Homo sapiens: one gene and its partners. The protein of the gene in region 5 purifies or fractionates together with the protein of the main gene of each other region. This does not show direct contact. Each region holds a gene or a part of one and is shown on either strand. Other genes may lie near its edges. The genes, in order: WDR97, OTOL1, LUC7L3, NUDT16 and MTMR2.

The links.
Region 1: the proteins of MTMR2 (region 5) and WDR97 purify together in Homo sapiens (affinity purification with mass spectrometry, with the first as the bait; one large-scale study listed by BioGRID). This does not show direct contact.
Region 2: the proteins of MTMR2 (region 5) and OTOL1 purify together in Homo sapiens (affinity purification with mass spectrometry, with the first as the bait; one large-scale study listed by BioGRID). This does not show direct contact.
Region 3: the proteins of MTMR2 (region 5) and LUC7L3 purify together in Homo sapiens (affinity purification with mass spectrometry; one large-scale study listed by BioGRID and IntAct). This does not show direct contact.
Region 4: the proteins of MTMR2 (region 5) and NUDT16 purify together in Homo sapiens (affinity purification with mass spectrometry, with the first as the bait; one large-scale study listed by BioGRID). This does not show direct contact.

The regions. Positions count from the first base shown.
Region 1 is NC_000008.11:144,110,739-144,114,255, reverse strand, and holds part of WDR97 (WD repeat-containing protein 97), read right to left. Parts: coding exon 3,517-3,517; intron 3,393-3,516; coding exon 3,260-3,392; intron 3,156-3,259; coding exon 3,034-3,155; intron 2,831-3,033; coding exon 2,770-2,830; intron 2,625-2,769; coding exon 2,475-2,624; intron 2,370-2,474; coding exon 2,112-2,369; intron 2,033-2,111; coding exon 1,907-2,032; intron 1,810-1,906; coding exon 1,726-1,809; intron 817-1,725; coding exon 739-816; coding exon of another isoform or gene 688-738; intron 600-687; coding exon 375-599; intron 280-374; coding exon 94-279; intron 1-93.
Region 2 is NC_000003.12:161,495,509-161,499,609, forward strand, and holds the start of OTOL1 (otolin-1 precursor), read left to right. Parts: upstream 1-1,299; coding exon 1,300-1,663; intron 1,664-3,662; coding exon 3,663-3,752; intron 3,753-4,101. UniProt on the Homo sapiens protein: Collagen-like protein specifically expressed in the inner ear, which provides an organic scaffold for otoconia, a calcium carbonate structure in the saccule and utricle of the ear.
Region 3 is NC_000017.11:50,753,644-50,756,719, reverse strand, and holds the end of LUC7L3 (luc7-like protein 3), read right to left. Parts: 3' UTR 501-3,076; downstream 1-500. UniProt on the Homo sapiens protein: Binds cAMP regulatory element DNA sequence. May play a role in RNA splicing.
Region 4 is NC_000003.12:131,385,342-131,389,347, forward strand, and holds the end of NUDT16 (U8 snoRNA-decapping enzyme), read left to right. Parts: 3' UTR 1-3,489; downstream 3,490-4,006. UniProt on the Homo sapiens protein: RNA-binding and decapping enzyme that catalyzes the cleavage of the cap structure of snoRNAs and mRNAs in a metal-dependent manner. Part of the U8 snoRNP complex that is required for the accumulation of mature 5.8S and 28S rRNA.
Region 5 is NC_000011.10:95,844,104-95,847,620, forward strand, and holds part of MTMR2 (phosphatidylinositol-3,5-bisphosphate 3-phosphatase MTMR2), read right to left. Parts: intron 1,057-3,517; coding exon 850-1,056; intron 1-849. UniProt on the Homo sapiens protein: Lipid phosphatase that specifically dephosphorylates the D-3 position of phosphatidylinositol 3-phosphate and phosphatidylinositol 3,5-bisphosphate, generating phosphatidylinositol and phosphatidylinositol 5-phosphate.

The DNA of each region.
Region 1 (3,517 bases), on a different chromosome or scaffold from region 5:
CCTGCTCCCATGTCACACCCAAGCCAGCCCCTACCTTCTCCCCTGTCCCTCACCCTAACCCATGCTTCTCATGCATCCCCAGTTCCCTCCAACCTGCAGGCTGAAGATGGGGAACAACTTTTTGAACCAGGTCTGGTAGATGAAGAAATGCAGAAACTTGGGCAGATGCCCGTAATGCTCATCCAAGAGCAAACTCCCATGACGGTGCCAGGGATGAGGGTGGGTCCTGGCAACCTTGCAGCTGCGCCGCCGGGGCTCCTGGGTCCAGTCCACAGCACTCTAGGGGAGCAGCAGTGGCTGCAGGTCCCACCTGTCTGGGTCTCAGTGTAAGCCCACCTCCCGTGGTGGCCTGGGGCCTCTGCCTGAGCCTCTACCTGATCCTCCAGTTCCCAGGAATCCAGCTGCTGGTTGGAGTGCGGGCTCAGGGAAGCCAAGGCCCAGTCCAGCTCCTCGTCTTCCTTCTCCTCCTCCTCTTCCTTCTTGTCTTCCTCCCCCTCCTCCCCAGGCTTCTCCCCCATCCATTGGAGCAGCTTCCTCTGCCACTGGGTTTGGGATGGCCTGGGGCGCCACAACCACAGGGCATCCTGGCTTGCCCCTGGCTGCAGAGGGGCAAGAGATGGTGCCTGATGGGTTGCAAGGACAGCAGAGCCCTCCCCTGCCGGCAAAACCCCCAGCCCTGCCCCTTGCCTCGAGCTTTCTCTGGGAGGCGAGCTGAGTCGGGGATCCGAGGCTGCTGACCTCCGCATTTAGCCACATCTGCTGTAGCACCGCGGAGTTGGGCACATAGCCGGGGAAGCAGATGGGCCTCAGGCAGTGCTGGAGGTGGGCACAGCAGGGAATGCTGAGGACCTGGATTCCCCAGCCTGGACACCACCCTTGGTCACCTGTATAACCTCTCAGAGCCCCTCAGCCGCCAGTCCAGCTCTGCCTGCCAGGCCTCCGAGAGCTGGCTGAGCTAGCAACCCCTACTCTCAACACAGATGGCAGGAGAACCCTGAGATACCAGGGGCGAGGCCCTCAGTGAGCATCAGCTCTGACAAACGAGAAGGGAAACCTGGAGAAGTGCTGGCTTCTAGGGGCCCTGACACCCTGCAAGCTCCTTACAGGACTTGGCCCCAGCCCTGGGACAAGAAAGTCTAAAAGAAGCACAGGGGCCAGGGAGGAAGGAAGGAGCTTGGAGAAAGGGCAATGAAGAGCATGATGGTGGCACCCAGGCCCAAAGAGTCAATTACCCACCTGGGCAGGTGACAGTGCCAGGAATATGCTGGGGGAGGGGCTGAGGCCTGCCTGGGCACCTGGTGTACGTGAGGGTGGGAAGACAGTGGATTCTAAAGGGCCAGGTTCCCTTGACTTTGCTCCTCTAAAGGGCAGGGATTCTGATCTTCCAGGAAAAGTCCCTAGGGGACCTGCCCTCCCAGCGCCTCCACGGGGGAAAGGGGTGTGTGGCATAACCGGCTGGGGGGACTGGCTTTGCCTGATGTCAGCTCCCAGAGCAGCAAGGAGCCTGTGGCCACAAACACAGCTGTACTGGAACAGGGCTAGACAGAGGGTGAAGGGTGAGGGGTGAGGGGTGCGTGGGAGGCTACAGCCTGGCCCTCTGGTTGTAGGTGGGCATGGCCCTTGGGTCAGATTTGGACACAAAGATTTGTAGCAAAGGGGAGATGGCAGGCACAAGAGTGATGCCTGGAGAGGAGTGGCTCTCCAGGAGCTGGGAGGGGGTCTCACCTTGTGGGGCTGCACGGTGGCAGGAAAGAAGCCCCTGAGGCTAGAGAGAGGTTCCTTGTCCCATCTCTTTGGCAGCAGTGGGATCTGGGGGATGGAATGGGGGCTCAGAACAACACAGCCCCTAGCACCCCGGCAGCTCTGCCCCTCAGTAGGTGGTACCCCACCTGCCTGGGTCCCTCACCCTGCACTGCAAGTGGGAGGATGGCAGGTCCAGGGCCATGGTCGTCCTCCCTCGGAGCTGCTCCAACTGCAGCTGCAGATCCAGACTGATGCCCAGGTAGTGGCTCAGTGAGGAGCGGGCCAGAAGCTGGGGCATAGGAGGAGTCACAGGGTGGCAGAGGGGTCATGGGGGCCCAGCAGGCATGTGGGAGGGTGGGAAGCCTCACCTGGGATGCCTTGCTGTGCACCCTACGGTGGGTGGGTGGGATCGGCACTGTGACTCGGGGAGACTGGGAGAAGTGCTGGCCCAGGGCTCCCAGGTCCTGTGGGGACAGGGCTGTTGGCACTGTTTGGGCTGCAGTGCTGACCTCAGCCCGGGCAAGACAGTGGGCAGCTTGGGGTACAGCACACACATCCCGGGTCTCTCTCTCCACTCTGAGGGTCCCGGCACTCCACTGCTGGGACCCCCTTCCAGACTGCATGCCCTGGGAGGTAGCAGGAGCAGACAGACCATCAGAGACCAGGTGGGAGGGGTGGGTGGAGAAGAGGGGCCAGGGTCAGGGCTGGGCTGGGGGAGGCCCTACACCTACCAGCAGGCCAGAGCCGTAGATCAGACGGAGGTAATTGTCAAAGCCTTCCTGGCGCTGCTGCCAGGAGGGTGGGGGCTGGGCTGCTGGGACCACTAGCCCCAGCCTCAACTGCTGAAGGTCTCGGTCCCGGGCCACTATGGCGTCCAAGTCCTGAGTCAGGGTTCAGGGATCAGCCTGCTCTTCCTTGAGCCTTGCTATGTGCTGCCCGGGCAACCATGGGGATCCCAGGCCTGCCCCAGGGCTGACGGCTGGGGCCTGAGCCGGGGCAGGGCGGGCTAAGGAGGACCCACCCCACCTCCTTCGGCACCAGGTGCTGAGATGTTGCCCTCCGACGATGGATGAGAGACAAGGCCTCGCTGCAAACAGGGACAGGCACAGGTGGGATGCTGGGTGGCATGCCAGTGGGCTGGGGCAGAGGCTGGGACAAGGACCAACCCCAAACGGGTGTGCCAGGGCTCAGGCAGGCTTGTATCAACTCCAGAGGGCCCCACACCGCCAGGCCCCCACCCAGAGTGGGAAAGGAGGGCCTCCAGGAGGGCTGAGCAGGCCTGCATGGGACCTGAGGCTGGCTGCCCCATGGAGGTTGGTGAGCCTCTGCAGTTGGGCGGAAGTCAGTGACTCCTGGCTCATCAGTGGCAGCGGAGGGTCGTCCACCACGTCTGGGGCCTTCCGGCACATCTTCTGAATAGGGGAAGGAGCCTGTATCCCTGGCTGGGGGAACCTGGGTCTGCCCCCCAAGGTGAGCAAGGGGGGCCCACCTTGCTCACTCTGTCCTCACCACACACCTTAACTAGGTAGGATGTAGGCAGGTAGAGCCTGTGGGACACCAGGCAGAGGCGGGATCCCAGCGCCAGCACCAGGTCTCCACTGTTGCTGCAGAAAGCCAGGGCCTGAGGGGCACCATTCAGCTGCAGGAGCCTGGAGAGGCACCCAGGGCAGCCGAGGCTCAGCAGGGACAAGGCCTTCTCCACTCAGTCCAGCCAGTGGGCTCTGGTGAGGAGCAGAGGTAGGAGACCCCAGCCCTCCCCACCTCCTAGCCTACC
Region 2 (4,101 bases), on a different chromosome or scaffold from region 5:
ATTGACCTTCTTTCCTGAAACTTTGCTGAAATTATTTATCAGTCCCAGGAGAATTTTGGCAGTCTTTAGGGTTTTCTAGGTATAGAATAATATTTTCTGCAAAGAGAGAGAGTTTGACTTCTTCTTTTCCTATTTGAATGCCATTTATTTCTTTCTCTTGTCTGATTGCTCTGGCTAGCACTTTCAGTACTATGTTGAATAGGAGTGGTGAGAGAGAGCATCATCGTCATGTTCCAGTTCTCAAGGGGGAATGGAGAGCTGTTGTGAGACCTGATTGGATTGATTAATGTACGGCATCTACTCAGAGTAGGGACTGTATAAACAGTAGACCTTTTTAATCTCTTTATTTCCATTCTATTTACTCTCTTACTATTTATCTTAATTATGGCTGCCTTCTCCTATCAGGAAATGTGGATTTATAACCCTGGCTATCTGTTAGCACCCCTTAGACTACTGGGAGTTGATTTGGAATGGAATACTCTGAACTATCAAAATTTCACCTCATTAGAAACCTTACATCATATCACTTTGGACATTGCCAAAGCTCTTTTTAGAATAACCACATTTTGCCCCATTAAAATAATACAAGAATAAACATGAATTTCTAGAAAAACTCCCCAAATTACAAAGCAAAGAGGTGGAGAGTTAAATGCCATGTGAAGAATCTAAGAATGTAGCATATATTCAAATTTATTATTTTTAATTGTCTCTCTCTTCACTTATTAAAATAGATTTTAAAAAATTGCTCTCACAACAGGACCATTATCCTTAGTAGATTTAAGGACTATTTCACCATATTTTTTCTTGAAATAATTGAGTTTGCTGGAATAAACTACTCAGTTCAATATTTTTCATCTCCCTCTAATACAAATGTATTTGATTTCTATAAATCTGAGTGAAATCAGTGAGGAAATTATACACATTTATCTTCCACAGGGTATATGAGCTATTGAGTCATGTTGTATTTATTGTAGATCATGTTTGCTATTTGGCCAGATAGTTTGAATAGTTGGGAACAATATATAATACTAAGAAAATAACCAGAAAGATGAATGGAAGTAAAGTGTTCTTTATAATAAATAAGTACATAAAATATTCTGTAGTGATTCAAGTACACATTTACATGTAAAATATATTGAAAATATATCATTCTATATTATGCATATCATTCATTCTTATGATTCATATACATATATATTTCTTTTATATGAGTATATGTTTATATGACTTAGTCTTTTCATTTGGACCTCACATAATATGTATATATTTTCCTATTATATCTTTCTTCCAGCTTCAAATATGTGGATGTTTTCTTGGCTTTGTGCTATTTTAATTATTTTGGCTATTGCTGGTATGAACACAATAGCAAAGACCACACCACATACCAAATTTACGAAGAAATCTGAGGAAAGAGAGATGCCAAAGGGTCTAAAGCCATCCAGTGGCCCACCTCCAGAAGAAGAAGAAACCCTCTTCACAGAAATGGCTGAAATGGCAGAACCAATTACCAAACCCTCGGCCTTGGATTCTGTCTTTGGCACTGCCACTCTCTCTCCCTTTGAAAACTTCACTCTTGACCCAGCTGATTTCTTTTTGAATTGTTGTGATTGTTGTTCACCTGTACCCGGGCAGAAAGGAGAACCTGGAGAGACTGGACAGCCAGGTATTAGAAAATATAAGAAGTCATGTTTCTCACTTGTACATTGGTAGAGTTGAGAGGTAGGTTGTCGGGTGAAATTGCCCCAGGAGTTTCTACGTTGTTATGCAAATAGTAACAGGTCTAGGTGTCACATTGTTACAAATGTAAATGGGTGCTGTGTTGCCCAATGTGGTAATTAATAAATATTAAAATTAAAATTGAATAAGGTAAAAAATTCAGTTCATCAGTCACATTAGCCACAGTTCAAGTGCTCAACAGCCACTGTATTGGGCAGCACAGATAGCATTTCCATCATTGTAGACAATTCTACTGGACAGTGCTGGTGAGAGCAAAGTCAGGAATTACCAACTCCAGCATGGTGCTCTGGTTCTTCAAGATGCACAGGTTTATTACCAGTACAATTTTTTAAATTAGTGGCTGATTTAAAAAGGGTAAATGAAACTTCTGTTGCCTTGCAAGAATGTGTGCTGACTGATGGATTTTCTGAGTGCTATTTGTAGTTAGGATTAGAAATGGAATGGCTCTGAGGTGGAGAATAAAGCTTAGGATTCCATTTGCTTCTCATTGAATTTCTGAGGCAATACTGTGTCATTGCCCAATGATTTTCTCCATTGAACACCATGGTTATGTATTTCAAGATTTCAGATGTCTATAATATATACATAATGAATATAGTCTTGGCTTTATTCTAATACATTTCAGCTTTTACATGTCATCTAGAAGAGAATTCAAGGTAAAGTTAAGATCAGAATGTCAACTTAAAATTCACCATTGCCTGAGGAATTTAATGTTATAAACTAAGCAATTATACATCTTCACCAAGCTTTTCATTCATTTCATCCCTTTGTAGGGACCTTTTGGGAAATGCGGTTAGTATTTATGCAGAGCTGCATTAAGGAGTAAAGGAGATGGGCCGTAGCTTGGGTACCAAGATGTCAGGATTGCTAAAACATTACTGAAAATTTAATGAGACTGAGAAAATTATATTTACCAGAAGTCTTAGTATCCTATCTGGCTGGTAAGCTGCTTGGCGGTGAAAATCCCAAGGGCATGGTCAAGTAGACACAGCTGGTTGCTAAACTATTTGCTAAGGCTGTGAGTTCTGTAACATCAGGGCTTTTGTTTTACCCAGTGGTGGATTTAGCTGTGCTGTTCTCAGGGTTCATTCTCTCCTCTAAATATATATGACAAATAATTCCAAGGTGTGCCAAGTTATTACCCTGCCTGGGGAGCTCATATGTCTTAGTCTGACTGGTTCTGCCACAGAGCATAGTGCTTGAGAGCTTAGAATGCTGAGACTATCTTGGTCCTACTTAGGGAAGCTACTCTGCTTTGGGAAATCTTAATCTATTCTTTGGGTCTTAGCTTAATACCATTTTCTCAAGGAAGCCTCTGATCTCATCAGTTAAGTCCTCAATAAGACCTTCGTATTTTTCTTTATATCATTTACTACAATGTGACAATTTCTACGTATTTGTGTGGCTATTTGTTAAATGTTTATCTTTCATAGACTCTCAGCTTCATGAGAGTAGGGACTGCTGGAATGTTGATGGCTGCATTCCTAACACCTTGCAGGGTGCTTGGTGTATAGGATGCCTCAGAAATAGTTAATGAATGAATGAGTAAGTGAATAAAAGGGAAATCCAAAGGTGCTAGGTGTTGTTTTTACTTCCAATGTGAAAGTGTGGTCCATATGAGGTTAAGTGTCAGATTATCATTTTGTTCTTGTTTGATATAGTGCTGCTTCCCTGAATCATTTGATCACTGCCATGAATACAGTGACAAGTACTAATGGTCTCAATTTATCTATTCAGGTAGTACGAAATTGCAAATCAGACAAAAATATTGCCCTTAGGACTCTGTGTGGTTTATTCTTACTCAGATTTTACCATTAGGTCATTGATACTTATTGATTGCAGTAAAATGCTTTTTTTCTTTCCTGAACTAATGAACTTTAAAAGAGAAATTTTATATTCTGATGTATTTAAAATCCCATTTCTAGGTCCTAAAGGAGAGGCTGGAAATTTGGGGATCCCAGGGCCACCAGGAGTTGTTGGGCCCCAAGGCCCTAGAGGCTACAAAGGAGAGAAAGGTAGGTAATTCATTCATGTCAAAACTCAAGGGACATTCTGCATCATTTTTCAGGAGAGCAATTTGCTACTTAAAGACTAGATTCTTGCAGATGAGTCAATTTTAAAAATGTAAATACTTGATAAAGCACATTATATTTGATATAAATATGTTAACTTTATAAACAGCCAATTGAGAAATTTTAAACTTACCTGGGAACACTGCACACATGCATGCAGGCACACAGATTGTCACACAGCTTTTCCATCTCTCATTGGTCACCTAGCTGACCTAGTGACAAGCAGCCACAGAGTATAGTCTCTGGGGAAGGGTATAGAGATACCCTTCCTGTACATGCTCATGTTAGCCTA
Region 3 (3,076 bases), on a different chromosome or scaffold from region 5:
TTTTTTTTTTTTTTTTTTTTTTTTTTTGAGACGGAGTCTTGCTCTTGTCGCCGTTTCTAGCTTTTTAAGAGTTACAATTAAGACCTCAATTTGAAGACTGGGCGCGGTGGCTCATACCTGTAATCCCAGCACTTTGGGAGGCCAGGGTGGGCCTGATCATTTGAGGTCAGGAGTTTTGAGACCAGCCTGGACAACATGGTGAAACACTCTACTAAAAATACAAAAAAATGAGCCAGGTGTGGTGGTGCGAAGCTGTAATCCCAGCTACTTGGGAGGCTGAGGCACGAGAATGGCTTGAACCCAGGAGGCGAAAGATGCAGTGAGCTGAGCTCGTGCCACTGCACTCCAGCCTGGGTGACAAGACAGAGACCCTGTCTCAAACAAAATAAAACCTTAAATTGGGCACTCAAGAAACAGCATCTTTAAATTTGTCACTGACTGATGGTTAATTTTACGAAATACACTACAGCTTATATATTAGTAACTACCTACACCAAGACTTTTTTCCCATTCTTCTTTTTAAATTTTATTAAGAAATATCATACATACAAAAGCACATAAACATACAGATTAAAAAAGGAAATGCCCACAGGCTTCAGAAACAGACCCTCACCAGTTCTTCTGAAGACCCCTGTGCCCTCATGATCACCTCTCCCTCCATCAAAACGGCTAACATTAAATTTTGTCTTAATCGTTTCCTTTTATCATGTATTTGACAGCCTGTTTTTGACTTTCATTGAAATGGAACCATAGTGATGTATTCTTCTGTGACTTGCTTTTTTTGATCCTTCTATTGTTGAGTTTTGTCCATGTTCACATACACAGCTGCAGTTCAGTTTCACTTCTGTGGAATTCCACTGTTGGAATATACCACAGTATTTATCCAACACACTGTTGGTGGACACTTGGGATCTTCCCGGGTTTTTTCTTCTTTTCTTCCTATTACACACAAATGCTTAAATCCATCCCCTGGTACGCATGTGTAAGAGTTTCTCTAGGGTATGTATCCGGGAATGAATGGCTACGAGAGAGGTTATGGCACACCCACTTATACCAAATTGTTTCCCGTTTCCCAAAGTTGTTGTTTCTAAACATTCTTAAATCTGTTGACAAATGACCTATTTGGGATGGCTGAGGGGAAGAAATAGATCAGCTACAAAACTCTTGAATTTTTAAAATAGTAAATTCAAAATTCTGATACAACAATGAAAAATACATTTACTTCTCTGCTTTGGCTTACTTGAAATGTACTTTTTAAAACTACAGGTTCAACTTAAAAGTGCTCTCCTTTATCTCAAAATAAATGTTTCTAAATATTACCAGGTAAAAACAGCAAGACTCAGAACATACGGGTATACCGTCATATATTTTGAAAGATCTATACATATATGTTTATATTTCCTCCCACCTCCCATCTCCCCACAAAGAAAACAACTTGGAAGAATAACTGTTAACAGCAGCAAGCTCCTGCAGAGGAAAAACAGAGAAATAGGAGTAGTAGGAGACATAGATCACTGAACACTTTTTTTTTTTAACCATGGGCAACATTACAATTATAATACAAAATTTCAAAAGTAGACCTGGGGTTCTTTCACAAACAACTAAAAAATCCCTCAGGAAATCAAACTTGAAAACCAATCCTGCATGAAGTCCCATCCCACAGAATTGTATACATAATAACTTCAAGTGTTTTTTGTTTCATGCACATATCAGATGTTTAAAAACATATTCACATAGCCCATCTGCAATGCATTTTTAAAAACAGAATGGATGAGGGCTCAGAGAACTTCCACCATAAAAATTTTCAGTTCTTACAAGTCTGAAAACTTTAATCAGAAGGTGGCTGAGCTCAACCAATATGTGGTCCAAGTGTTCTCAGACCTTAGAAATAAGGTTGGTTATTTATCCTCTGTGACACTAACTATATTTAAGGAACCAGAATGCCTAAGGAGAGGGAGTAAAAATATCTGAGCTGAGCAATATGACTAGGTTATTATAAGCTCAAGATCAAGAAAAGGATGTTTCAACCCAAACTGAAAAATGAATGGACTGTGTTTGAAGGGGAAAAAAAAACGTTTTAACAAAAAGGAGCATGATATGTATTATCTCTACATTCCAGAGGAGAGGATGTCTTGAGCAGCAGACTGGTCGGTCCTCTTGAAAGGCTCAATGAAAATTAAACTATTGGACCAGTGCTAATATAGTTTGATGACCAACAAAAGTTTACCCAATTTGTTTTATACTAATGAACTGTTATTTAAGAGGTCTTTGTCTTTTAGAGATACATGCTGAATTATTTACAGATTAAATGGTGTGTCTGAGACTTGCTCGAAAATAATAGAAAACAGTGGATACAAATACAATCACTCATGAAGTATAAAAGTGGTCATGAGTCTTGTTGGTGATGAGTTAACAGAGGTTAATTATATTGTTCCTCTTTTGTGTATGTCTTTAAATTTCCAAAATAAAGTTTTTTTTTTTTTAAGACCAACTGATTGCAGATTCCAAACTTACCAAGCAATCTGATTGATTAAAACTGGTTTGCTCCCCTTAAAGACCTTCCAAAGAGAAAATACATATTCACCAACTAATAACTTTTTGGTCTGCATGGCAGAAATGTTTGTTTCTTCTAGTGAACTGGTCTCAATACTGGATTCTTGTGAGCTGGTTAGCAACAATCAGTTCCTCTTCAGTCACATCAATTTTGGGTGTAAAATTCAACTTCTACGTCTCTCTCCATAACTAAAGCCAGGCCTTAGTCATAGATGTCCTGGGGAGGCAGGTCCTCCTCCCACCACCCCCACATCCCAGGTAACTTCAATAGTTACAATATATCTAAGTGTCCATAGAGGAAGCCTTTTCATATGAACTCATTTATTATACTTCATTTAAGTTAGTTAGACGTTGATTCTAGATGAGGCAGAGCAGAACAAATCTGGTATTTTAGTAACTTCCTAGATTTTTTATTACTTAGGGACAGAATATGGTTTAAAAACTATCACTTTAAGTCCTTTGCTGCTACAACCACAATGCTGTCAAACTACACAAAGCAGTGCCTGGGAGCTATCTTTGTGTT
Region 4 (4,006 bases), on a different chromosome or scaffold from region 5:
ATCTAGGGTTGGCGAGGCTGGAGGGCAGGGTGAGCCTCCACATGGGTGCTGAAGCAAGAAACCGACAGATGTTGAGGAGAATGGTGTGACCTAGGAGTCAGCATCCTTGGTGAACAAGAGGAGTGGCCACAAGGCCAGTGGCACCTGCCAGAGGGGAAAGCAGGCATGACAGGATAGCATCTCCCAGGTGAGAGCCTTTTGAGGAAGGGAGGGTGGGCAGTGGTCTGGAAGCTTGATGCAGAGCAGTGTGGGTCCCACTGGCAGCCCTTGGTCTTAGAAGAATGGGAGTACCCAGTGGGGGAGCAGCTGTACAATGAGGTAGACTCCTAGAGGTTAATTATCATCTCCTAATCTTACCCTGACCCTTTTGTCAAACGTTATCTAGATTAAACCTCAGTATAGGCAGGCTGCAGGAAATGGACATTCCAGTGGCCCCTGGGGTTCCAGCCTGTAGCAGCTTCATCTGTGCTTTGTGCACTTGGTTCTCAGTCATCTCTGCAAGGGACCCTGACGCCTGGGAGATCAGAGCCACTGACCCTTTATGGCACTGCTAACAGACCCCTTCCCTCAGGTAATTCTGGATCCAGAACTCATTATGGGATGTAATCCAGGTCAACACTAATACCACTTGGAAGGTTCCGCTCTGTCTCACTCTGCTTGAGTATCCCACTGATCAGTCTCTCAGTGCCTGCCTACTGGGCAGCTCATCTGTCCACTTATTCGTATTAAATTTGCTTTTTATTTAGGTCTCTGGAGATGGTTGCGTGGGGAAGAGCCCATGACTTTCCTATATGATCCCTTGAACATACTCTCCAAGTCAGTAGATTACCTCTCAGGCAGCCTTCATAAAAGTGTTTCACTGTACTGGGGTTTGTGTTCATCTCACTCACATAGACAGTCTCTGGGTAGGCAGGTGGGGGGTGATACAAGTTCACACTCTGTGTTTCTCCTCCTGTTAGCCATTCCCACCCTGCTGATGTTTAAGGAAAGCCAGGGATGATGACCCACTTAAGCTTTCCTTGGCCTTGTTAAGTCCAATCATCTGGGGCAGGAAGAAGAGAAATGCTCATTGCAATCTTTGACCCCCACTAACTGCTGTGGTGACTTTGACCCAAGCCCTTGACCTCCTTTTCCTTATCTGAAATGTTGCTGTGATTCCTGTGGTGAGATCAGATGAGGCAGCACTTGGGATAAGCTTGCAGAGATGCATTGAGCGGTATGAAAGTACAGGATGCTATGTACTTTCCTGCTTCACAGCACATTTTGTTTCTTGCAAGGTGAGTGGCCCAGCCGCCTCTCCACAAACACGTGTTTCTGCCTTTCTCAGCATAATCAGCAAGATGTTCCCACTTCTCAGCATTGCACTTTTCTGCTGGTGCAGAATAAAAACACTTTGAGCCCCACCCTGTCCTGAGACAAAGTCCTCTGTGGTCACTTGGCATATGGCAAAGCTGCTGCTGTGGGCTGGAACATTTGAGGCAACAGTGACTTCCTCCTTTCCTAGTTACCGGAACCCTTAGAGCTGGGAGCCGGCCAGTGAAACAGACAAGGGGAGGGGAAGAGAAGAGGGAAGGCATGTTTCCTATATGAGTTTCAGTTTGTTGCACAGAAATGTTTTTGAAACCTTTATCTCCAATAGAATCACAAACGGGTGTCAGAGAGTCAAAACTAGAGGAAAAAGTTTAGTCTGTAAACAAATCATTAGATGGCATCAGAATTTGAACCAAAGTAAAAGATGCTGGACCTTGGCACTTATCAGAGAAGTATAGAAGAGCCAGGTAGGGGATTTTATTTACAACATGTTCAATTCTGAGGAAGAGGAGTATGGGCAGGGCAGAGGAAAAAGGAAAAATGGGAAACCCCCATGGACTTAGGGCCCCCACAAAGAGAAACCATGTGCCTTCTCCCCACTTCCCTTCTGGCTTGGGCAAATGAGGCTCCCTTTAGGGGTAGAGGTACTCTACAGGGGCTATGTTCCCTTTAGGGGTAGAGGTAGTCTACAGGGGCCAGCTGGGCAGAGATGAAATCTTGCAAAGGAACCCTTCTTACACTCGAAAAGCAAGAATAGCAAAGGGACTTTGGGAAGGACATAAAACAAGAAAAGGAAGCTCCTCACCAACAGCTCCCAGATGGAGGGAGTTTGTGTGTCTAGCATTTTCACCAAAGTGCTGCTCATCCTGATGCACAGATGCAGATTGGAGCTGCTGCCTGTGCCCTCACCATGGGTATGTACCCACCACAGGCATTCCCAGGTGATGCGGGGGCAGAGGATTCCCTCTTTCCACTCAGGATAACAACCCCTCGATGGGGTTTTCAACAAGTATAGAAAGCTCCTGGACTCAGCCAAGACCCTCACCTACAGTCCCAGTCCTCCCACCTTCTTCAGGTCTCTAGAAGACAGAACTGATGGGTTTACAACATCCTATTATCCAGCACTAGTCCTAGGTTGTGGATGTAGGGAAAGGCCAGGTAAACAAGGAAGGGAGAACAGGTGAATGACCCCAATTGTTTGAAACCAAAAGAGCAGAATTGCCCCTAATTGATTTAAGTAAACAGCAAGTAACATAGGTCTGTTAAATAGAAGAGGATGTGAGCACCAGATGCACGTGATAAAGACCATGCTCTGGAAGATTCATTCCAAGGAGTAGAAGTGGTATTTACTCAGGGCATTTAAGGAGAGCAGGGACTCTGAAATGAGGTGAGAGAAAAGATAAGACATGCAGGAACAGCTGGCAACACCAAGAAAGAATTTAAGGAGAGGGATCTCTCTGTTAGAGAACTTAACATTACCCTAGGAACAGCAAGAGCATCATCAGCCCCAGGAAAATCTACCTCTGATATGGAGACCAGGCTTAAGAAAATCCCCTAGAACCCAGAGAAAAAGTGCAAAACAAGGAAAATGGCCAAAGAGAATATCATAGATACAGAGATCAGACAATGAGAATCCAGAGTCTTGTTAAGTGATAGAAGGAAAATACTAACAGAACACATGTAACAGGAACAACATTTTAGAGGAAACAGGACAAAAACTTCCCTAAACTCAAGATACTACACCAGAAGTGGGCAGTACTCACTATGTTCAGGGGAACAAAAAGATAAAAACTAAAAAGCATCAGACTGTTTTTTGTGTGAAGGAAATTTGTAAGGTAGGAGAATTAGGTCACTTACTACAGCACAAATTGCATGTCTATCTAAATTGACGTTTAAGTGCAAAAGCATGGATATTACTCATGCAGTTTTACTGGAAAACCATACAGATGTTTTTCAGGAATGTACAGAATGAATCAAAGGAAATAACTGATCGACAGGAAAACTGTAGGAAATTTGTGGGCTGGCTGTGAGGCAGTGGCTCCTATTATGTACAATTTTAGTGCTAAGTACTGTGTTAATGATGGCTATCAAACAATATGTTAACATCTGAAAGGAAATATGTATATTGAGCATAATAAATATTTTATAAATAACAATAAATCATTTGATTTTATGCTAGTTCCCAGGTTCTCACTTATTTTAGTAAAAGTGAGTAGTGAGGAGGGAGAAAGAAGCATAAAAATGTGATTCTGCTGAGGAAATTAGCAGGATTTGATTTCTGAAAACGGTAAGACTCGTGAAATTTTACTATTTCAAAGTACATACCAAAACAATATGATTCTGGCTGAATATGAAAAGATGAGAAAGAATGCCAGGGAATTACAGTAAAAAAGTAAGAGATCATCATAATATTAATATCAAAGGCACTAGAATTCTTTAATTGATCAAGAGATTATCCACAATAATCACATAATCACCAACAATTTCAGATTATATACAGCAAAGTCTATTAGAAATTAAGAAAATAGTATTAATTAAGAGAGTGCTAAGATACTTTCAGTCAATGTTTGACAGTTAAAATGTCAGGTGTAAGTATGCCTATGTAGTATTGAAAAAGAATAAAAAGGAAGATGCTGATGACAATTAACATTTTAGGGATGCCTACTGTGTGGCAGGCACTATTCTAAGCTCTTTT
Region 5 (3,517 bases):
TAGCAACTTCGAACACCCCAAAATGTTTGATTTTGAACACATTTATATAAACATGTGCAGCTTTGGCTGACTAAAACTTGATTCTTTGAAGTACGAGTTTGTTTTAAATGGCCGTTTCATGATAAGTACATTGTGTAGAGAACGGCAAAATGTGAGCCATCTGAATAAACACTCCAGGTACCCAATTTTATTTAACAGTTCAAGTTCAAAAGAGCAGACTAACTTTAAATGTCTGTTCCTTTCATGTTACAGTTAACCCTTGAACAACACGGTTAGAACTGCACAGGTCCACTTATATGCAGATTTGTTTCAGCCAAATGCAGGATGCGGAACCCACATACACAGAGGGCCAACTTTACATGGTCCCAGCAGGGCCAGCTTCAGAACTTGAATATGTGTGGATTTTGGCCTGTTCATGGGATCTGGGAACCAAGCCCCCACATATACCAAGGGACAACTGTATAAACACTGCTAGTATACTCTGGTAACTACTGGATACTAAAGGTAAACATTACAGACAGCATCTGGGTAAAGACCCTTCTAAAAGTTTTTCAATTATTTAGGAAAACGCCTGCCCAGAAACACCCGTGGACATCACTGAATGATATCCGATGTTTCCCAGTGGAGATCACAGAAAAGACTGGGTCAGACACTTGACAAATAGCTAGCTCTGACTCCAGACTAGTCATGTTAGGGATATCTTAATGCTTTCCAAAACAAGCAAAAACGTTTACCCCACTAGATAAATGATCAATTTCAGATGAATATCTTATTTTAAAAAACACATTTTTTTCACATGCCTTGGCATGAATGCATGTGATATATCCAAAGTCAAGGTTCCTTACTTACTAGTTGAAATCGATGTCCAAAACTTAGCCATTCTTTCTCCACAAGGACTTCAAATCCTCGGATGGTTCGATAGTATCCATCCAACATGAGCATGGCAAGGGAAGTGAGCTGAGCTGTGCGATCCCAACCATCACTGCAATGCACTACCACAGACGTCTTCCCTGACTCTACCTTGTCAGCAATCCTAAGAGCCCCTGCAAGAATAAGCTGGAAAACAGATTTTTTAATACATTGTTTTTAAACAAGGTAAATACTTCCTTCTTCAAAATTTACTAATACAGCTTATCAGGGATCATTATTTCAATAACATGAGGAAAAACATTTGTCCCTTCCTAAGAAGAATTTTTTTAAATGGTAGAAGATATATAAATTTTGCTTTTAAAACTAGAAAAACCTCATAATTGCTGACTCCTATTAATTTGCCCAACGAAATAGCCAAATCAAAAGTACCTTTGGGTGCTACATAAATCATGGTGTAAGATTCTTCTTAGAAAAGTTCTAAAGAGATCTGTTTCTAAGAATCAAATATTCCATCATCTATTTAAATAAAAATAATTGATATAGCAATTGAAGCCTTGTTATGATTTAAAACAATGCTTAAACCAAATTGGGATAAGCACCTGAAAGCAATAATACTGGATCTCTTTAAAATACTCTATAGCAGTTATTGTATTGTTTTGACTAAAGATTTTTATGTCACAGAGCATACAGCAAGCACAGTATAAACTTTAGAGTGAGCTACTTTTCTGTAACACTGCATGAAAATTCACAGAATATGTCAATCTGTTACTTAAAATAACTTCAGCTCTTATTTTTTTAAATATGCAGAAATCCTTTGCAAAATAACTTACCTTTTCTGAAGTCAATCTTGAGTTAAAACTAAACATAATTAGATATAACCAAAAAAGAAACACAAAAGTATGGTATCTTAAAAAAAAAAAAAAAAAAAAAGGACAATACAGCCCTATTCTTCTCTGCAATGGCCATATTGTATTATACTTGAAAAACAGTATAGTTCTACATACGCAGATGAGAATGAAAGAAAACAGATTATTAAGCTTGGAAGTATGATAACCTCCCCTTGATCACAGCTATAAGCATATTCTGGAAATGGGGTACTATGACGATCTTGACTATATATCAAGAGTCATTTGTAAGCCTGAAGTGCCTAGACCTCATTGTCCAATGATCCTAATTCAGTATCTTAAATAAATTCCACCTATAATTCTAGTGCATATACGAAGTTAAGAATCACTAACCCAAAGGCTTAGTTAAGATTGATCAGGAAGAGTTATCCAAAGTAGTAATTGTTCATTCATTCATTAAATAAACATTTATGGAGTCCCTTACTAGAAGGTAGATACTGCTCTAGGCACGGGCCATACAGCAGGGAACAAAGTTCCTGCTTACTGAAGTTTACATTCTATTTGGGTGAGGCCCACCAGTCACAAATAAACAAGGAAATATACAGTATACCAGATGGCAATAAGTGAAAACGCTCCATAGAAGTTATAGGGAATGCTGGTAGAACTCTTATTTTGTAAAGAGGCTGGGAAAGGTCTCTCTCAGAAAGGTGATATTTGAGCAGAGACCAGAAGAGAGTGATTGAGTAAATAAACTTTCTTTGTGTGATAAGGATTGGGGGAGAATAAAGTAGTTTAGCCCAACTATATGTCTTATAACTCTAGGGAAATTTGATTCTGTTATAGCCAGCCTTTTAGAGACCATGTTGAAACTGCAAATTAAATATCTGGAGTTTTCAGAATCAAACACAGCGATTTATGTTAGTTCCAAATCAAGCCTAAGGCTGTATATTTACACATCACATAATTTAATGAATGGGCCACATGAACATGCTCTCTGAGTAGTGTTTATACTTTGTGATTTTCAAGCTTCTAAGCTTCTCAAAGGGAAACAATAGTAAAAATGGTCTATTTAAAATTCTTATTCAGTTTGGTTTTCTCTTCAATTCTGTCTGAACTTCAGAGATTTTAATGTGAGCAGAAGTATCCTCCTTCTTAACGTGAAAGACTGCATTTCCCATTACCTCTTAATATTTATATATGTGGTTACATAAGTCTACATTTTGGTGAGTTATGTTACTGACAGACCATATCTGAAAATATAACTAGATTAAATTAGCATGTTAGGTAAATTAGCACTGACATGTGCTCTGCGAATGACTTAGCACTCAGTGTGGCTCATGCAACCACTCCACCTCATTTCCCTGATCAGAATGGTTTTAACTTCACAAATCAACTAATATTTATTGGGTACCTATTCACACGGATAGTGCTGCCCTAGCTCCTGAGAGGACAAAAAAATATATGTAGGATTTATCCAGTCTTGGTCTCCATAAATTAGCAATATACGTTGGTTGACACACAAAAGCAAACAAAGTACACGCTAGTTCCTGATTAGATGGAAAGACAGGGTAAAGAGTTCAGAGAAAATGGAAAAGGATGCAATCTGGGAAGACCTTATGGAAGAAATGAAATATGAACTGGAATCTGAAGGATGGTTCGAATTCAGATAGGATGGGAGGGGGAACAAAAGAAATACAACATAACCAAATGCACAATATAAAAAACCAATTCATTCAAACATTAAAATTCACTAGTAGTTCCAAGTATCAAAGCATTTACCCATTTTTCATTGTTTAGAAAGG